2 separate regions of the Homo sapiens genome follow, and region 1 is linked to region 2. Evidence: fine-mapped expression QTL. A gene starts in region 2. The other region holds a variant in brackets. All regions are shown on one strand. Distances are between the middles of the regions.

Evidence for each region. PIP is the estimated chance that this variant, and not a neighbour inherited with it, causes the effect.
Region 1: its variant is fine-mapped to the expression of BRPF3-AS1 in testis (GTEx, PIP above 0.99).

The regions. Positions count from the first base shown.
Region 1 is chr6:36,230,647-36,241,375 of GRCh38, forward strand. BRPF3 (bromodomain and PHD finger containing 3) reads left to right here. Exons shown (of 13, transcript NM_015695.3): 13 at 1-2,144. Among named protein-coding and RNA genes, the nearest start is that of PNPLA1, 34 kb to the right of the region's middle. RefSeq lists an enhancer at 4,804-5,349 and a silencer at 9,186-9,480. The variant C/T (reference allele first, on the strand shown) is at 5,287.
Region 2 is chr6:36,190,025-36,200,555 of GRCh38, forward strand. BRPF3-AS1 (BRPF3 antisense RNA 1) reads right to left here and starts at 7,179. Exons shown (of 3, transcript NR_187147.1): 1 at 6,013-7,179. It overlaps BRPF3 (bromodomain and PHD finger containing 3), which reads left to right and starts at 6,720. Exons shown (of 13, transcript NM_015695.3): 1 at 6,720-6,946; 2 at 10,273-10,531. The coding sequence starts at 10,299. RefSeq lists a silencer at 6,335-7,074 and an enhancer at 7,425-7,474.

The DNA.
Region 1 (10,729 bases), 41 kb after region 2:
ATCCCGCAGGGCACAGAGAAGCCTCTTCTGCCCCTGCCAGATGTATGGCCGGCAGCTTCCCCCTCTCATGGTAGGCCAGGGACTGGGCTTTCTCCCCACTAAGGGCAAGGCCCCAGTTTTGACCAATCGCATGGTTCTCCTGGCAGGCCTGCTGTGTGCCAAAAACTCCCACCCAAGGTCCCTCAGGGGATATTTCACTGAAGAACCAGTTAGAAGTAGAAACAGCTGTGGGGCTTGGGCCCAGCTTAGGAGATTGCCCAGATGGCAAGAGGTCCTGGGCTCCTTCTTGAGGGGCTGCCTGGCCCGCTCCATCCTACTCCCACTAACTACACCTCAGGGCGGGTGAGGTTCCGACACTGATCCCAGAGATGCCGTGGATACGCCAGGGTCCCAGGGGGAATCTCCCCAAGCTCACACTCTCTCCCGCTTATCGCCTATTCTCACACCTCTTCTCGGTCCCATCTTCTGCACCCATTGCCCAGTCTTGCTTTCTCTTTCCCATATTCCTTTTCTTTTTCTCTTGTGCCAAACTGACAGAAACCGTCACCACACTGGTCTTTTTCTTTAATGTCTCATTCCCCTTGAGGCCAGCTGCTATGCCAGGTGGTGTCTCTGCCAGGCTCCTCAGGCCCAGACAGAGGCCAGCCCACAACCTATGACCCCCTCCCCCAGGACACCACCTCCCACCCACAGACCTTCCCTTTAGCTGTTGACACAACTTCCCAGCTCTGCAAGTGTGCCCCCTGGATCAAGGCGGGTCCCCTCTTGTTTTTTTCTTTGCTGCCACGAGGTGGTCCAAGCCTTCAGGGTGGGCTCCTATCAGGCTGGGTGTGCGAGTGTCCATCTGTCCACATGGATGTCGAGGGTGGTTTGTGTGGAGCTGTGCTCGTCAGCTGGGTCTGCCCTCTTCCCCCTTTTCTCCTTCTTCTCTCCTCATGGACTTTTTCTGCAATTGCAGTCTTAAGCTTCACTCTCCACCACCTGGATGGCATGGCGCCTGCCACCAAACATCTTCCTGGCCTGCGCTCTGCCCTGCCCTGCCTAGCCTCTGCTACTCCCACTTCCCAACTCCAGGGAATGCATTACTTTTATTTCAAACCCTCTGCCTCCTTCCTTCTTTCTCTTCAACCCCCTCCCCACCTTCACCTTCTCAAAAATGGAAGGAAAAAAAAACTGTGAATGGGGAATGCTGACTGACAAACCAACACAACTTTCAGAGGCTTCAGTGTCTGTTCTCTGGACATTTCTTTTCACCTCCTGAGCACCAAAGTCGCAGGGCCAGTTGCAGGCCGCTGATTGCCATGTTGATTTTTAACCTGATATTCTTTTTAATTGTTTTAAATTTTTCATAGGGGAGTTTTGGACAAAACAGTCACTGGGGAGATCACTGCCATTTTTACACACTTGACTTTTTAAAAATACAACCAACCAACCACCACAACTTCTTATACATTTGGGACATGAGCCAGAGTTTAAAAGGGAACCAACAAAACACTATAACTTAAAAGGATGGGGTTTTGGATTTTGTATAATAATAAAAACAATACAGCATATGGCTAGGGAAGGACATGGTGTATATAATTGTAAAATACTGTTCTAAATTATTCAGGCCTATAGTTTCCATTACTGGAGTCCTCCATTGTGTGGCCACACAGTGTCGTTGATTTAAAGGAGCCAGTGCTTCCCCTCTCCCCAGGTAGTTGGTCAGCTGTGGACTCTGTGACCTTTGTCTAAACCTGTGTTGTAAGATCTTGGGACTTCCTCTCTTTCTATGTCTATCTCTTCCCCCCAACACTTTCTCTTCTTAGTCTCTCTCTTTATTTTTCAATCTCTGAATATTTTAGTCTCTCTCTGAGTCTCATTTTTTAAAATGCTCTTTTAGAACGGGAAACGGCTCAGATCCTGCTGTGGCACGGGGCCTATGTGTCTCTGTCGCGTCTGCTGTGAAGCACATGATGCTCTATTTATTGTAGAGAGTGACTTTATTTGCTTTCTAGAATTGTTTATAACAGATGGTATAAGAGAGGTAATAAACAGAGAAAAATCTATGCTTGTAAAGAATACAAAAGTTAATTTTACCTACTATAATATGACTGTCTGAAACTTATTTTCTCTCTGAGAAATAAATGTTCTAATGGGCAGTAGTTGCTGTGTTGTGTTTAATCAGTAGGGGCCTACCCCTGTCTTCCCATTCCCTACAGCCTCCTCCTCAACAGGCCAGGACCATTAAGAAAGTTTCCTAGCTAGCGAGGGCTGTATCTTTCTTTTTTTTTTTTTCTTTTGAGACAGCGTCTCTGTTGCCCAGGCTGGAGTGTAGTGGCATGATCATAGCTCACTGCAGCCTCGATTTCCTGGGCTCAAGAGATCCTCCTACCTCATCCTCCCCAGTAGCTGGGACTACAGGCACGTGCCACCATGGCCAGCTGTTTTTTTGTTGTTGTTGCCCAGGCTGGCCTCAAACTCCTGGACTCAAGCAATCCTCCCGCCTTGGCCTCCCAAAGTGCTAGGATTACAAGTGGGAGCCACCATGCCCAGCTTCTGTCTATCTCTTGGACCCCTAGGAGCAGTGTGAGGATGTTCTCTGACTTTGCTTCCCTCCCGGACAGCGCTGGCACCTTCTGGGAGCTGTTGGAAGGTCCATCCTACCTTCCCATGCCTCGCCTTCCCTGTGGCCATGTTCCTTTAGGAGCCTCTGCTCCTCATTCAGAAGGAGAGTGACCCTTTGGACACACCTGACTTACCAAGCTTGCTGAACTTGAGACTCAAGGATGCTCACACCTCTTATGTCACTGCTGCTGTTTTAATTCTGTAGATGGGTAGCTGGGACACACACAGGGGAATATAGGCCTCACTCCTCTTAAAGCTGGAAGGCATCCTTAAGCCTACCTGGTCTTCATTTTACAGACAAGGAAACAGACCAGCAAAATTAAAAGACCAAGGTCAGCCAACTAAGAAACTGTGGCATAATTCTGAGACAAGGATCTGGCCAAGGCTTTGTTTATGGGCTCCACAGCATTTCAAGACTCCACTGGCCTATTCTGTATCGTGTTCCTCTCTCAGTGGCTGTGGCTCTGGCATTTCTGGATAGGAATGTCCTGAAGAGCAGAAGCAGAGGGGAGTTCCCAGAGACAAACTGCTTGGTTGCTGGGCATAGAATAGCTTTTCCCCTGTCCCTACTCCTATCCCATTCTGGTCCTACCTGGCTCCTATGCTTGTCTCGGTGTGGCTGAGGACTCGGGTCTCTTGATCACTTCCTCCACGGGGCCTTTGACAGCCTTGTCATTGAAGTCAAAAAAGTGTCAAAGTTCTCATTTTGGCCTAACACTGACAAAGTACTGCCAATGTGCTGATAATCCTTGTATTACGTGTTGGGGCTGCAAAGACACACACCCCTGGTCTCAAGACACTCACAACCTGATTTATAAGATACATCTCACATAACGCCGCATAAGGCCAGTGTGAGGGTCCCAGATATGTGGAGGCGTTTGGGAGAGACATGTTTGGTTGGGGAGTAATGAAAGCCTTCAGAAGCAGCAATTAATTCAAGCCTTGACAAATGGGGTTAGGAAAGACTTTATTTATGAATTGTAAGTTGAATTACAAAGACGTTTGCAAAATATTTACAAAATATTTAGGGTGAAATTACAAGCTCATTCTATAAACCATTTTAGAAATAAAAGTGGCCAGATGGGTAGGATTTTAGCAGGCGAGGCTAAGAAGAGGAGACAAAGTCATGGCTCAGAAAGAGATTGTGCATATTCCAGCTCCAGTGACTAGCTGACCTCCCACGTGACTGGAACCCACCGAGGTGGCGAGCAGTATATCGGGCTTAAAAGCCCTGTCACTGTCACTCACTCTGTGACCCTGGGCCTCTCTGAGACTGACGTAATAAAGGATCCCAAAGACAGGGCAAGGTGGGTGCCATTCATATATGGCAGGTAGCAGCATCCATTGAAAGATTTGAACAGGGCAGAGACTTGATTGGAGCTTGGCAACTAACTAAACATCAAAGTTAAAAAGCAAGAGTGTTAAGACAGGATGCTGGGTGGCTGCTGGAGGGATCGCTGTGGGTTTTGAAGGGAGGAGAAAGTGTAGGTTTTTTGATGAGTTTGTGTTGTCTATGGGACATCTAAGAAAAACCTCCAGCAAACAGATGGGAGTTGAGCCCAGAATTCAGGAGAAAGATGGGAGCAGATGACAGAGATGTGGGCACAGTGGAGCCCACCTAGGCAGTTAGAAGAATGGCCAAGGACAGCAAGGAAGGCGAAGGACAGACATGAGGAAAGCCCCTTACACTTAGAGTCTGGGGTTGGGGGAAAGGGGGAGACAGCACCTTTTGAGGGGTCTGTTCTCCAGGGAGGGCCTCACAGGGAATGTCAAGCCCTCATGCCACAGATGGAGGAGAAAGGCAGGTCAGATGTGCTTAGCATCACAAGGCAGGAAAAGGCAGGGCTGGACCAGAACTCAGCACCCACTCAGCCCTTTCTGCTCTCCACGGACTTATATATTACCCAAAGTAGGCAAAAGTGTCCTTAATAAATTTTATCAATGATGTGACTGAAATTCATGAACTCAAGTCTAAAATGATACTGTAATATTGGGACATGTGTTGGAGACACTCTGACTCTCGGAATAGAGAATCCCATTCTCCTAACAAGTTAAAAAATATCATTGAAAGCATTTGCCAAAATCCCTTGTCAGCTTGGCTGCTTCCATTAATATATTAGATGCCATTAGCACCTGAGTGTGAATGTGCCAGTGCGTCAGATGGGCTCTCCTGACCTGGCTAGGCTCTGAGTTTCACTTTTAGAGAAGAGGTGGGGCTAGTGGCAAGACTGCCAGGCTCGGAGTAGTGCTGAAGGAGAGAGGGAGGGTGTGGGCCTTGACTACCCTGAGTCTGCAGGCCTCCCACAGTGTCTGCAGTCGGGCAATGAGTGTGCAGGTCTCTGGTCCTGCTGGCTGCAGCCTTCTGGCCTCTACTGAAGCTGGGATGAGGGAAGGAGGTCTTTGGAGGAGGGAAGTGGTTTCTCCAAAAGGTGGGGCAGAAGTTTCTTACTCTGTGATGAGGAAGAAGGGCCAGGGAGATACGTGCTGGGCTAGAGCTGGAGAGGAGTGCTGGATCCACCCTGGTGATACGAGAGAAGGGCAGGGAAGTGCTGGGTAGAGAAGAATGGGGTCCCTGGTGAGGGCTTCACCCTCAGGCCTGGTCCACGGACCTAGGTGAGGACAGGCACCCTTGTTTTTGAGCCCAAATGTTGCATTTTCCAAGACCACTCTGGCCCGCCA[C/T]GCCCCTGATCCTGGGCCCGTAAAAACCCCGAGACCCTAGCGGGCACACACACACAGCCGGCTGGAAGTCCAGAGAAGCAGAACACACCGAAAGGCACCAACAGATGCCGACAGGCTATCGACGACGCCACGATGACGTGAAATTTGGCACAGCGCGGTCGGAGTCCAGCTGCCGGGCAGCCCAATTCCAGGTGAAGACCACCTTCCCACTCCATCCTCCTTCTGGCCTCCCCATTCACCTCACTGAGAGCTACCTCCACTCAATAAAACCTTGCACCCATCCTCCAAGCCCACATGTGATCCTATTTTTCTGGTACACCAAGGCAAGAACCCAGGATACAGAAAGCCCTCTGTCCTTGTGATAAGGCAGAGGGCCTAATTAAGCTGATTAACACAAGCTGTCTGCGGATGGCTAAACTAGAAGAGCATAATGTAACACACACCCACTGGGGCTTGGGGAGCTGTAAACACTCAAACCTTAGACGCTGCAGTGGGGTCGGAGCCCACACTCCCCATGACCTGCCTGTCTGCATGCTCCCGCTAGGGGTTTGAGCTATGGGGTACCAAAGAAGTGAGCCACACCCCCATTGCATGCCCAGCGAGGGGGATAAGAGAACTTTTCCCATTTCACTGGCACCTGGGGTGACCTTCTGTCTGCCCTTTCCCTTCGAGGGTGGCAGAAGGTAATTGGGGATAGACGAAAAACGTCCGTGTGTGTGTGTGTGTGTGTGTGTGTACATATACATAAGTATTCTCTTCAACTTTAATAGGGCCAGGACTCACGGGCTACATGCAGTCAAACACTCTACTACTGAGCTCTACCCCCATCACAGGCTACATAGAGTCAAAAAAGCTAGTTGTCCCCAAATTTCAGAAGGGCCGTGGTGCTGTTTCTGAGAACATTTTATGTCCTTTGCTTGACACCTGTAAGGCTGGTTGGAAGAGGGTGGATTCAGTTGAACTCCTGAAGCCGTGTCTCAATCCCTTCCTCTTCCTTTCTGCCTAGTATTCGTCCGTTTGGGGGATAGAGAAGCCATACTGGGGATGCGACGTTGATGGTTCCTCATGGGCAGGGAGTATCACATAAGGGTCCAGGGGTGGGCTCCTTCCCTTCAGCTTCACAGTCCAGAGTGACGCCTGAAGGAGATTTTATCTAAGCTGGTCAGGAAAGATTATAAAATCCGTGGGGGTTTTTTGTATGTAATATGGGAAAATTTTTAAGTGCAAAGAAATTAAGAACTACCCTTTTTCTGACCACACAGAAACTACCATTTTAATGTAATTCCTTATAGTCTCTTGTTTTTTCTAGGTAGAGCATGTATTTTAGTTTCTTGTACTAGGTAGTTGAGTAGTCTGTTACCTCTCTGACATCACTGCGGAAATTCATGGTACGACTGGGATGCAAGTCCTCCCCACGCCTCCTCAGCCTAAGTCTGGCTTTTTCTCACTTGCTGTTGTTCATGGACTGGCCTAAACCAAGCATTGCCTGTTAGTTCCTCTGTTTTGTTAAAATACTGATAGTCTCCATAGCATTTGAAATTAGATGGGAGCTATATATCTTCCTCCCAACAACTTTGCTCTCTTGGGTAAATTTCCATGGAATTCAGTCCTAGACCAAATTCTGCCCCATGTACAAACATCTAATGAGTGAGGAAGCCACCATATGGCCATATAATTCTCCTCTTGATTGAGAAGTTCCCACCTCTGCTTTTGGGTACAGCCACCAGCATCGGGAACGAAGATCACTCCACAGCAGATACAACATGCTTCCGAGGTCAGGACCAGTTAGTGGAGTAGTCAGGTCAGGAGCAGGAGGAACAGACCCCGAAGTTTGAGTATTTTCATATTTTAGATATAGTTTTACATACAGTAACTCTGGGACACAAATCTTAAGATTAATCTCTATGAGTGTTTATATGTGTACCCACCCATGAAATTGTGATCCAAATCAAAATACAGAATGTTTCCAGTGCCCTAGAAGGTTCCTCATGACCCTGTCCAGTCAGGACCCCTGCTGCAAGTGTAACTACCATCCAGACTTCCATTGCTGTGGGTTAGTGTTGCTTGTTCTTGGACTTCACATAAATGGAATGACACAGCTTGCGCTCTTTTGTGTCTGGCTTCTTTCATTTAACATTGTGGCTCTGAGCTCCACCCTGTTTTGCATGTAGCTATAGTTTGCTTTTTGTTGTTGCTGAGTAATATTCCATCATCCAAACACACCACAGTTTGGGTATCCATTCTCCTGCTGATGGGCACTGGGTTATTTCTAGTTTAGGGCTGTTATAAATAACACTGCTGTGAACATTCTTGTACATGTCATTTGATGGACATAAGTGCTTGTATGTCCCAGGAGTGGAATTGCTAGGTCACGGGGCAGATATATGTTTAGCTTTAGTGGATTCTGCCAGTTTCCCATTTGGTGTTCAATTTATATCCCCTCCTGTATGAGTCTGATCTTGCACAGCTCCCCACCTGTATTAGTCTGATCTCGCACAGCTATAAAGAAATACCTGAGACTTGGTAATTTATAAAGAAAAGAGGTTTAATTGGCTCACGGTTCTGCAGACTGTATAGGAAGCATGGCTGGGGAGGCCTCAGGAAACATAGAATCATGGCGGAAGGGGAAGGCGAAGCAGGCACATCTTACATGGCCAAAGCAGGAGGAAGGGAGCAAAGTGGGAGGTGCTACACACTTTAAAATAACCAGATCTGAGAACTCACTATCGTGAGAACAGTAAGGGGGAAATCTGCCCCCATGATCCAGTCACCTCCCACCCGGCCCCTCCTCTAACACTGGGAATTAAAATTCAATATGAGATTTGGGTGGGGACACATATCCAAGCCGTATCAGAGTATAGTTGCTTCACATCTGTGCCAACACACAGTACTGCTGGTCCATGATGTTTGCTCCAGACCTGCTTGTTGAATGACTTCCATTAAGCTCCACTGTGCAGCCAGGCTTCTGTTATCCTTTACAGCACTTTCTGGCTTTAGAGGGAGAATTATGAACTGCCAAGGTGCTTTTCAACTGGGGAACCCTGATTGAGAGGATGGTGAGGGGGGAGAGCTCCCTGGAGTGGATTTGCTGCTGATCCTGTCCTGGACTCCAGGGCATGTATGCACCTGGCTGTGCAGCCCAGGCCTCTCTTGGCACCCACTTCTGTACTATGGTGCCACCCAGATCCCTGCATGGGCTGTTTGGGAGATAGGGTCACACTGGGCAGTCCTTTTTAGTTCAGAGTAACACTACCTTTCCCACCTCATCCTCCTCATCACTGTCATTGGGCTCTGAGGGACCCACTTTTGCTCGAGGATTGCTTTTTTACTTTCTGTTTTTGTTTTCTTGAGATAGGGTCTCACTCTGTTGCCCAGGCTGGAGTGCAGTGGCTCGATCACAGCTCACTGCAATCTCTGCCTCCTGGGGCTCAAGCGATTCTCCCCCCTCAGCCTCCCAAATAGCTGGGACCATAGGTGTGTGCACCACCATGCCCGACTAGACTAATTTTGGTATTTTTTGTAGAGATGGGGTTTCGCCATGTTGCTCAGGCTGGTCACAAACTCCTGGGCTCAAGGGATCCGCTGGCCTTGGCTTCCCAAAGTGCTGGGATTATAGGCGTGAGCCACTGTGCCCGGTCTGAGGGACCCACTTTTGAATACAGACCCCAGCCTGTGTCCTGAGGTGTTATGGTTACCGGTGGGGCAGAAGGGACCCCTGCATATTGCACCCATTTTGTCCTTGTCCACTGGCTGTTGCCCAAAATTCTACCCTTAGTGCTTTATGCTTTTACCTCTCAAGGGCATGATACTTAGGGACTTGGCAGTGACCCTGGTTAGAGTGGGCCTGTTTTCCTTTAAATGACCGGTATCCCAGTGTGAACAAAGGATATGTGAGCAGGTTTTGATAAGGCAATACAGCAAGGACACTGAGTCCTTGAGGGGAAGGTTTAAAAGGAGATGAAAAGGGCCTACTTGCTGTTGGCTGACCTTGGTGCCACAGACGCACATTTCAGAGTCATCAAGGATGAAGGCTCAGAAGACTCTGAAGCAACTTCAAAGGAATCGCTTGGATCACAGGTGGGGTGAAGGTTGGAGATAAGAAGGCAGGGCCAGGGAAAGAGACCCAAGGGAGCCTCGTTTGGAAGCAAAGCTCTGGAAACAAAAGACTGCAGAGCCAGGGTCAACCTGGGCAACTGTTTGAAGCCAGCCCCGTCCTCAGGTGCAAGAAAGAGCATTCTCTGGGTCTAAGCCTGAGTTGTGCGCGGAGGACACAGGCTTTCCTGGGCAGGACTGCAGGCTTCTGGCTCCACTCGTGCCTGTGGCACACACAGGTTTTGATAGCCAGAGCCTGGCCAGTCCTCCTCTTTCTGCTCCCTGTCCCTCCTGGGACCAGGACTTGGCCTCTCCCCTCCACCCTCCCTTCTCTTCCTCCTTCCCTTCTTTGTCTCCTTCTCCTTAAATTTTGTGATTTTTAATTTCAATTGATTTATTGCCCCTCCTTGTCCCCAGCCTCCCAGTTCTCCTCCCCAGAGGAAACCAGTTTCACCAGTTGCATGTGTAAGTTTCCAGAGACACTTTAATCTATGCACATGAGTGATGTGTGTGTCCACTTTTTCTATACAAATGGTAGCATACTTTTTATAGTGTTCTAGGCCTCATTTAAAATTTTAAAATTAAATATTGAGTAGATACAAAAATAGTAGTTATAGAATATATATACATTTTAAAGACACCCACAATACAATAGACCAGTATGGGTACCCACGCCCTGTTTTAGACAAAGAAGCTGGGCTTTTGAAACCATGTGCCTCTCTCCAGCCCCACCCTCCTCTTCCCCTAAATACTATCATGAATTTTACGCTTATCCTGCCCTTTTTGTCTTTTTATAATCCTACTACTTGTTTATAATAGATTATGATAAATATACTATATTTTTATACTAAGATAAATGTAATAAACATTATATATAACAAGACATAAATATATATAATAATTGAATATGGTATACTACCTTTTTGGGATTATGAATAGAATAGTTTTCTATGGCTGGCTTTTGTCCCACCCATAATTATAGTTCTGAAGTTCAGTGTACTGATACGCATGTCCGGAGTTAGTTCATTTTCACTCTTGTATAGAATTCCATTGCATGGAGATAGTATGATTATTTTCATTGGACTATTTTATTTATTAATAATAATTATTATTGTTTTCTAATTTAATTTTATTTTTTGAGACAGGGTCTCATTCTGTTGCCCAGGCTGGAGTGCAGTGGTGCAATCATGGCTCACTGCAGCCTCAACCTCCAGGGCTCAAGAAACGATCCTCCTACCTCAGCCTCCCAATTAGCTGGGACTACAAGCATGAGCCATCACACCTGGCTAATTTTTAAAACTTCTTTTATAGAGACAAGGTCTCACTATGTTGCCCAGGCTGGTCTTGAACT
Region 2 (10,531 bases):
TTTGTACCAGATTTCCCCTCCCTCATCAGTCTAGGGAAGAACATGTGATGGTGATGATTGGGGCTCGGGGGAGCATCTTATTATTTAGTATGCAGAGATTCCCTTTAATTTCCGTTTTCAGTATGACACTTCATCGCTGTCTTCATTGGTTCCTGGTGGCCCCAAGTCTAGAACTTCTTTAGTTCAATTTCTTGAGATAGTAAATCTCACCTGCTGTTGTTTTCCCTCATTCTCTTTGTTCTTGTGGATTTCATTGTCTTGTGGATTTTTTTATCCTTTACTAACATTATTGAAGTTAGGGGAGGGAGTGGGGACCAATGCATGTTGTCAAGCCAGACATTATTTTAACCATGCAATCATTAAACTTTTCCAGAAATGTCCCACTCATTGTGGACTACTCTTTCTACAATGTACAATGTAAATTGTAAATTGAATTTAAATTTGCCATCATTTCATTGTTTTCTATTTGTTTCACCTTTACTATATTTCCTTTTCTTTCCTTGACTTCTTTTAGGTTGGTCGAATTTTTTATTCTTTTTTTACTCTGTACTAGTTTGTGAGTTACATCCTCATTTTTTCATTCTTTTAATGTTAATGATTAGTCTAAAAATTGCAACAGGTATGCTTTATCAACTTAATTGTGGTAAAATTTATGTAAAATAAAAGACAGCTACTCTGTACAGTTTAAGTTTTGGCAAATGTATATATACCTGTTTCTCCACCACTGCCATCAACTTACAGAATGTTTCTATCACTCCAAAAAGTTTCCTCATGCCCTTTATAGTCCCTCCTCCCCTTCACATCCAGGAAGCCACCAATCTGCTATCATTATAGAGCAGTTTGCATTTTCCAGAATTTCATATAAATGGAAACATGTATTTTATTATTATAGGTATTCTGGAGTAATCAAAAGCTAATATTAATCCTTTAACTTTACCTTTTTCTCAGAGTATTTTAATCCTGGAATTCTCTAAAATCCTCTAATTCACTGTTTCTCAACTTTAATATGCATATAAATTACTTATGGAAATCTTGTCAAAATGCAGGTTCTAGTTTAGTATGTGCTATTATTTTTGTGTATTTTCTCTCCCTTTAGTAAAATTATGCCAAGAAGATGGCTACTTTTAGGGTTGGTACTTCTGCTAAAATATGGAATTATATTTTATAGTGTCCTGGCTTCACTCACAGTTAAGAGTTTAGGATTTAATAGAAATCCTAATTAAAGGTTGAAAAGATAAGACATTAGATCAAGTTGAACAATTTATACTTGTCACATACTACTTGCTTTCATGCTTGCTTGGTTTAGCATTCCACTGAGTATATGGTAAAATGTTCTAGCTAGAATTCAAGTTCAGAAGATAATGCAAGCCACACTGGATAGCTAATTTAAACCATACCGTATCACACTCTCTTGCCTGACTAGAACTTAAAGCATGGAACTATTGAAGTCATTTCCCTGTTCCAAAAATCATCAGGGTCTCCTGCCCCTTCATGTCTAGCTCCCTACCCAACCAACAGTCTCCATGCTCTGACTTTACCTTACCAGCCTTCTCTCTCATATCCCTCATTTTTGGGTCAATGGGTAACCCACTGTTTCCTGAAACAATCTTATGGCATTCCATGTGTTAAAGAAAAGACAGCAGACCCCAAATGGAGTCATTCATGCTGAGAGGTTCCATGACACCAAACCAAAACCTGTATTTTACTGTAAGATCTGACTCTTCAAGAAATCAGGAGAGAGATGATAGTCAAATCCCATTAAACCAACAAGATTTCATTTACATTCCTATAAAGAAAAATAATCTTGAAAAGACCAATCTGCTATTTGCTCATTGTTCCTGATTTATTTCACTTCTTTCTGCCTATAAAACTCACCTACTTGTTTAGCTCATAGGAACTCCTTTCTATTTTGTAGACTGGATGTTGCCCAGTTCATAAACAGCTAATAAAGCCAATTGGATCTTTGGGACTCATTTGTTGAAATTTTATTCTTTGATACGTTCTTCCTCTTTGCTCATGCGGGTGGCTCAGCCTGGACCACACTCCCTCTACCATCTTTCTAGCTGACACACCTACCTGAGAGCTTTCAGGTAGAGCTCAGATAGCACTTTCTTCACAGAGCCTTCCCTCTTCTCCTAAACAGACGAGCTCACTCCCTCCTCCAAACTTTGGCACTTCGTTTGCATCTCTCTTGAAGTGCTTATATTGTAGCACGTTCCAGTTATAAATACCCTTGCTTTATACTGTGATTAGAATCTAAATGCCTTCAAGTCTGCAAGCATACTCTTTTCACCTTTGTGGCCTTTACAGCCATAAAATAGAACCTTACCAGCAGCTCACAAATAGTAATTGAATAAATATGTATTTCAGTGTGACCAAAAGAGGTTCCAGAGAACTTGAGCTGATTTCATCATTTCTTCAATCCTCAGGTTCCCACCTCCAATAGGAGCTCCCGAGCAACCCTTTGCCACCTCTTAATTTGCAATGATTGTACCAAACTGTGAGAACCTACAAAGTTTGAACTTAGATTCTTCTTCAATCTTCTCCTTTGTTCTTATGTCCAATCAGACAAAACAGTTGCTTTGTCATCTGATTTCTGATTTGACCTTTCCTTTTCCTCTTTCTCTAACACATTTTCCATCATTCTGCTTAATGCCTTTTTATTTTCATAATGCCTAATTACCTATAGTAAACTCTTCCAGGTTTACCGGATCTCCTGTTCTACTTTCTCCAATACATAAAGAGGATAACAGTAACATTTTATAGAGTTAGTAAGTTGATAAATAAGATATGGTGTGCATATTGGACCTAGTTTGTACATGTACCTACTACCCCATTGTACAATCTTCTCCTGCTCATGTCCTCTGGTTTTAGGAGTTGATACATGACAAGCAGCATGTCCCTCTGGCCACAGTTATTGGCTCAGGATGGCTGAGAAATTGCAAGATACAGTATGCTGATGACATAATTCGAGTCCTTTGACTCGATCTTGTCTATAGCTAGATGCACCCCTGGACTTTCTGGTTATGAGAGTTTATTTCCTTTATTAAACTCACTTAAGTTGGTTTTCTGCTAACTGCAACAAAGATCTTTAATAAATGGAGTATATAAAGCACTAAGCACAGTACCTTGTACATAAGTGTTAGGTATTATTTTTATTATCCCTGTCCCCTTGCCATACCTCCTACCCAATTCAATCTTTTTCTTATCATCTGCCCATACATACCAGCTAGGATAATTTCCGCATTATTCCCTGCATATTTTCCCTTTGCCTGGACTGTCCTGTCACCAACCCAATGTCACTTTACACTCTTTTCACCAGTTCACATCCATCATGATTTAGAACTTGGCTTAAAGAAGTCTCCCATTCTCCAAGAAGCCTTCTTTGAATAATGGTGGCTCCATACTCTTCACTGCCTTATCTATTTTTTCTTGTATGTGTTTTCTACTTATTTCTACCATTCTGGATTGCACACTACTCAAGGCAAGAAAAAATATATTCTATCTATACTTATGATCATTAGTCCCTTTCTAGGTTGAGATTTTGTCATTATTTTCCAAAGAACTTGTGCAGTATTAGACACACTCTAAGTGGTCAATGAATACGTTTTAGAAATACATAAATGGAATTAAATCTAGAGAGTGTGGTATGTTACTCTATTTAAGACCTGTTGTTAACCTAGCTAAACTTTTCCCATTTTCCAAGCAAACTTTACATTCTTAAACCATTTTAATTAGTGTAAAAGTATCGGCCGGGCGCGGTGGCTCACGCCTGTAATCCCAGCACTTTGGGAGGCCGAGGCGGGCGGATCACGAGGTCAGGAGATCGAGACCATCCCGGCTAAAACGGTGAAACCCCGTCTCTACTAAAAATACAAAAAATTAGCTGGGCGTAGTGGCGGGCGCCTGTAGTCCCAGCTACTTGGGAGGCTGAGGCAGGAGAATGGCTTGAACCCGGGAGGCGGAGCTTGCAGTGAGCCGAGATCCCGCCACTGCACTCCAGCCTGGGCGACAGAGCAAGACTCCGTCTCAAAAAAAAAAAAAAAAAAAAAAAAAGTATCACAATGATTCCAACCTCAAACATTCCTCCCAACTGTGGTTTCAGAATTCTTTTAGTCAAGTATCTAAGGAAGGAATATTCTATTAAAAATAATTTAACAATCAATCAAGGCCTATTTTTTTCCTTATCATCCACGTTATTAATCCAGTGGGTACTGCGTCTGACCCCTGAGAGGTTTCTTGGCCTGATAAACTAATGACAATAGTGAAGCATTAACAAAGATATCCTGAGATGCTGAAAAAAAGTATGATGGGGAAGTATGAAAGAAAGAGGTGGGGAAATGGTGATTTTTTTTTGTATTCATGTTTCTTTTAGTTTTAAATGGTAAAACCTTCTCCTATCCCAAATAAGTTGGTTTCTACTTACAGCTGGAAGGTTCTTAAAAACAACTATTTGGAATCAAAGATCCATGCCTCTGTTTGTTGAATTTAATTGCTGTATGGTTTATTGGAAAGGCCAGGGGTGGTGAATTTAAACCGTTTAAAATAGCAAACGATTAAAGTGAATTAAATTTAGTGCCTCTGAGATTTTTGATATATGTTCCAAATTTGTTTTTAATAACATAATTGTTCCATGTTACATTTAAGATTCCATCACAGGGAACTGGTTACGTGTGCAGTTATGCTTGTAGAAACCAATTCCAAATGTCAAAAATTAAAGTGAGGGCAACTGTAATGATATCATTAAAAAAGTAGAAGTTGAAAATGGAAGAGAAACACTTAGGTTGAATAAGGTCTTAATATGAAAGCTTTGAATAGAAAAACCTGAAAAAAATCACATGCATTAGGTTGACTTAAGGCCTTTTCAACAGCATTTAAATCGTTGACTTACAAGTAGAAACCAATGCATTTTCTCAAGGTATTTATTCATTCATTTTAGTGGAAAAAGATAGCTCCTGATCACGCAAATGGGAATTGTGCTAAATAAATTTTGAGAACATCCATCAAGAAATAAAAGTTACTAGTCATATGTATAAATGATTATTATATTTCATGTTTTAATAGTTTCTGTTAGTTTTCAGACTTTTTTTTTCTTAACTACAAGTACTGTAATTGCAATATTTTCTTGCCTCTGGGGCTTTCTCTTCCACAATTAATCATCTTTTTCTTCCACACCTTCCCTCCAAATGATTATTCCCCCTAGCTTCAGAACACTTGACATTAATTCATACTATTTCATCTTCACAGCTTTCAAAACATTGTCCTGCCCTTGCTTAGCTCCACGAGCCACCCCCCTTGCATTTAAAAAATTGGTTAACAGAAGCATTTTTGTACTATCTCTTTGCCAGAAGATGCTATTTACTTGGAAACAAATTAGCTTCCTTAATCAAACTTTTGAATTTGAAACTCTCTATATTTAAATTCCTTAGTATAACATCTATACTTCCAAAGTAGCAGTATGTTCACTTTAAACATTCAGAAAATTTGGATCCTAAGACTTTATCCTTCATCCTTCTGACTCTAGAATACATGTCCTTGATCATCAGAACCAAGAAAGAAATTGAGTCTCACCAGCTACACCACAAGTGCCAGCAGAGGAAACACTTTCAAACTGTCACTCACCTTCACATTTACAGGCAGCTTATCCATACGTCCTTTATAAACATCATTATGTATTGGTGCTTAAGACTTCAGTCACATGAGGTAAGCTTTCCAGTTTACAGGCAAAAGGGGGTGGCAATGGAGCCCTTTTCTTTATTTTTTTGTTTTTTTAGATCAAAACAAAAGCCAGTTTGGTCTGATGCTGCCATTTGTCAAGCATCTTTTAGAAAGCCGCCTAATGCATTAAATTAACCAAGTCAGGTTTAAAGTGTTTCCCATGCCCACAGTGACAGACGAGTTACCAGGCATGCTTAAGCAGACTGTCAAACTTTTGTTTACTCCTTTTAAACGGAAAGTCAGATTTTTTTTTTTTTTTTTTAAAAGATGTGTGGTGCGGAACAAGACGCTCACCTGTACACAACAAAGGCAGGTCTTTCCCGGCTGTCCTCACTGGGGGAGGGGATGGACAATCGCTAGACCTTTGTCCTCAGGTCCTGGGCATGGGGGTTAGGGGAGACGCGACTTTCTGGGAGTCGTGCAGGCACCTGCAGTCAAGAAACTACATATTGGTTTTGACCTCAATGACTGCCCTGGCTTAACCTTTGGAGAGGCCCTTTAGTTCGGGGAGGGGGCTTGCTGCTCCAAACCGTAGCCACGTCACCCACAAGGACTGGGGAGGAAATGACTGACCGCTCAAGAGTCAGGGACCCCTGTCTCTCCCAACTAGACCCGAACGTCCACAGCCCTCTTATCGGGCTCGCCCCGTGGCGGGCAGGGCCGTGGTGCGCAGGGATCGCGGCGGGCGCAGACCCGGTCTCTTGCTCGGTGTCCCCGCCGCGCCCGCACCGCCACCGTGAGGCCGAGCCGGGGATGGTGCCCCGTGGCGGCGGCGGCGGCGCCTCCGCGCTCCTCTCCGCACCGCCCCGGCCGCCGCCGCGCCAGGCACGGGCGGGGGGATTTTTTTCCCGTTTCCCCCTCTTTCGCGCTCTCGCTCCTGTTCAGCGGGAGAGCCCGCAGAGTCAGGGAGGGAGCGAGGGAAGGGGTGGAGGTGGCGGGGGGAGGCCGGAGGGGCGGATCCTGCCTGGGGGCTGATCCCTCCCTCCCCTCGGCCGGGCTCCGTGGCGGCAGCGGCAGCAGCGGCGGCTCCATTCCCCCTCCTCCCCCGGGAGCGGCGGCGGCGGCCGGGCCGGGGCCCCAGCGCGGGCCGGGAGGGGGCACGGCGGAGGCCACGGAGGCAGGCGCGGGAGAAGACCGCGCTCCGCTTCCCGGGCCGCGCCGACCTGCTCGGCGGCCTGCCCGCCCGCGCCCAGGGGCCCCGAACGGTGGGGCCGGGCAGGCGGCTGAGGTAATGGGGGCGGCAGCGGGGCCGGACAGAGCGGGGGCGGGGGCATCGGGGCCTTCGGGGACCAGGGACTGCACGGGGGGAAACCGGAGAAGCGGGGGGCTTTCCGAGCAGGGCGGGGGCGGTGCGAAAGCTCTCTCCTGGAGCGAGGGCGGCGGCAGGGAAGGAGAAGGCGGGTGAGCGGGGGAGCTGAGAAGCGAGGACCCCCTCCCGCAGCCGCCATCTTGTCTCCCCCCCCAGCCCTGGATTCCGAGCCGCTAAGCCCCGCCCCCGCCACGCCTTCCAATTGGCCTGGCCAGACGAGAGTCCCGCCCCTTGAGCGGCCCTAGGTCCCCTGGGTCCCTCTGACGGGCAGGTGACGCAGCCAATGGGTTCTCGCCTCTCCGCCCCGCTCATTCGCTGGCGCTCGCTTTCTCTGTCTGAGGGTCGGACTCCACGTCAGGCTGTCTCTGGTGCGCTCGCCCCTCCCCTCTGAGGAGATGTTATTTCCCTCCTTTCTTCTCCGAGGGGTCAAGATTCTTCTGGAAGAGGTGCCCCCTTAAAGGAGCAGGAGCCTTGGCTGGGGTCCTCCTTGTCTCCTGAGTATCTTGTGTGAGGTGCAGGGGATACAGTCTAATTGCAGAAGCTCCTCATTCTTCGGGGACCTGGATGGGGTGGGTGAGCGAGGGGTCAGGGGGTGCCGAGGGGAAATCTGGGGGGGCGGGGGTTGTTGGAGATATTTTGGAGGTGTGTATGTGGGAAGGGCTGTGTAGGTTGAGAAACTCCCGCCAAAAAACTCGTCTAGACTGTAAGCTCCTTGTGGGCGAAACTCTTTTCATTTCCCTCATCAGCAGTCCCTTCCCCCTCTAGAGTTTCTCCCCGGTGTCTGGAGGCGTGGGTGGGACAAAACACGTCTGTGTAGAGTCTTGCATGGTCGAGAGATGCTTGAGCAGCCGAGGAGGTGGCAGGTGGGGAAGGAGAAGATGGAGCGGCTTTCATGAAAGTGGGCGCCGCACCGCCTGTCTGCGCTGTTTGGGGTCGGTGTGGAGGCAGATGTTCTCACCTCTTCTAGGGCCTCGGTGCCTTTGGAGGGGTGGGTGATGAAGCAGGTCTGTTGGCCCTGTCTGCCCCCAGGGACTTGGCATTTGTAAGGAATCCAGTAGCCAAGGGCCTCTGGAACCCGGACAGAATTGCTGCGATGATTCTGTTTCCTTTGGCTCCAAATGGGGTGTGTGCCAGCCCGCCTGGCACTGCTCCTCAGCCAAATTGGTTTTTTGTTTGTTTCAGTCACACTTTGGGATTGGAAGGCCTTTCAAGTAAAGATGTTAATAATACCTTATTAACAAGTAGCACCTAGAGAGCTAGATTGTGTTACCCTCATTTTACTGATGGAGTATGGAGGCATAGAGAGCTTAAGGGACTTTCTCTAGGTCACAGAGGGCCAAGATTAGAACCTAGATTGCCCCAGAGCCTCGTTTTGTACCAGACCATAGCACCTCTGTGGTGTTCTTAATTCCCACTGAGAGGAATTGAGCATCGGAAGACCTGGGTTCAAATTGTAGCGTTATCACTTACTAGCTTTACGTTGAGTGACATCTTTCTGAGCTTCTGTGTAGATGATAATAGCTACACCATCTCCTAAGGTAGTTGTGAGAAATATTAAAAGTAAGAGGGCTTTGTAGTTTGGAAAAAGTGCTTTTATTATCACCGTCTCTACTTTATATAGATGGTAGACCCTGCAACCAAGGCGATGAATTGTTTTTCTCTTTGAAATCTTCTCTTTGTTCATATCCTTCCAAGTCTGCCCACACCATGGGGCCCTGTATCCCCAAAGGTCTCTCCTGGTGGTGACAGCCTTGGTAACTGCCTACCGCAGCTCCTTATGAGCTTGTCATCCAGAGAATGATGGGGGAAACTAGGACTTTCTCTTGGCTGTACAAGGATAGACTAGATATGAGTGTTCTGGGAGAGACTTTTGAGGTAACAGAATGCATTGAGAGTTTACCTCAGATACTGCCCAGATCATCTTGGCCTTCGGTCGAATGAAGGTCCTAGACAGGCCACTATAACTTCAGAGATCTCTTGGAGCCACTCTCAGAGCTTCTAGGGTTTGTTTCTGCCTGGAAATGTACTAGTTGGTGTATCCTGGATCAGGGGTTCCCAACCCCCAGGCCGCAGACTGTGGCCTGTTAAGAACCAGGCCATACAGCAAGAGGTGAGTGGCGGGCAAGCGAGCATTACCACCTGAGCTCTGCCTCCTGTCAGATCAGCGGCTGCTTTGGATTCTCATAGGAGCGCGAACCCTACTGTGAACTGCGCATGTGAGGGATCTAGGTTGCATGCTCCTTATGAGAATCTGACTAATGCCTGATGATCTGAGGTGGAACAGTGTTCACCACCCACCCTCATCTGTGGAAAAATTGTCTTCCACGAAACCAGTCCCTGGTGCCAAAAAGGCTGGGGACTGCTGTCCTGGATGGTGTCTTTTGTAGGGAATACCCTGCATACTGTAGTTTGAAGCCCTTAGACCATGTATCATAGATATTTCAGATGCCTTCACCCCTTCACCTCTAGGCAGGGTCAAGGAGTAGGGTTTCTGATCGTGGTAAGAGGTATTGGGAGAAGACTCTAGTGACTTTTGATCCTCTGATGGGGCCCATTGTTCACGTACAGAGCTTGACAGTGGATGCTTTTCTTGTTTTCTTTTCTAAACCGTTAACTACATGTGTTTTCCATAGTTAGCTGTCGCCCAGCTTTATGTACATCATTAGAACATTAGATCTTTCCCCATGTTACACTGTAATAATCTGTTTACTTTTCTGTCTTTTGAGTTAGACAGGGCTCCTTGAGGGCAGGGATCATGTGTGTTTGATTTCTTCTTTCATTCAACTAATACTTATTGAGTGGTTACTTAGGAGCTAAGCACTGCTCCAGGAACTGGGGATGCAGCAGTGAACAAGACAAACAAAAATTCTTCCCCTCATGGAGCTTATATTCTAGTGGAAGGAAGGAAACAATAAACATAGTAGTAGGTAAATTATGTAGCATGGTATAAGATGATGAATGTTAAAGGGAAAAATAAAGCAGAATGAAAGGTAGATTGCTGGTGGAGGAAAAGGATTTGCAATTTTAGATAAAGTGGTCAGAGAAGGTCTCACTGAGAAGTGTTGTTCACTTGAAGAAATGAAAGACTCAAAGGAAGTGAAGGAGCAAGCCATGTGGATGCCTGAGGGGCAAGTTGTTCAGACAGAGGGAAAAGCCAGTCCTCTTGGTGGATGCTTGATCATATGGGAGGATGAATGGGTGCATAAGGGCATCCAACTCATAGTCTCCTGGCCTTCTCTCCTTAGGCCTGTCCCCTCAGTTCCCAGGTGCCATGAGGAAGCCTCGTCGGAAGTCCCGGCAGAATGCCGAGGGCCGGCGTTCCCCGTCCCCCTACAGTCTCAAGTGCTCACCCACCCGGGAGACCCTGACATATGCCCAGGCCCAGCGGATTGTCGAGGTAGACATTGATGGACGCCTGCATCGTATCAGCATCTATGACCCACTCAAAATCATTACTGAAGATGAGCTAACTGCCCAGGATATCACCGAATGCAATAGTAACAA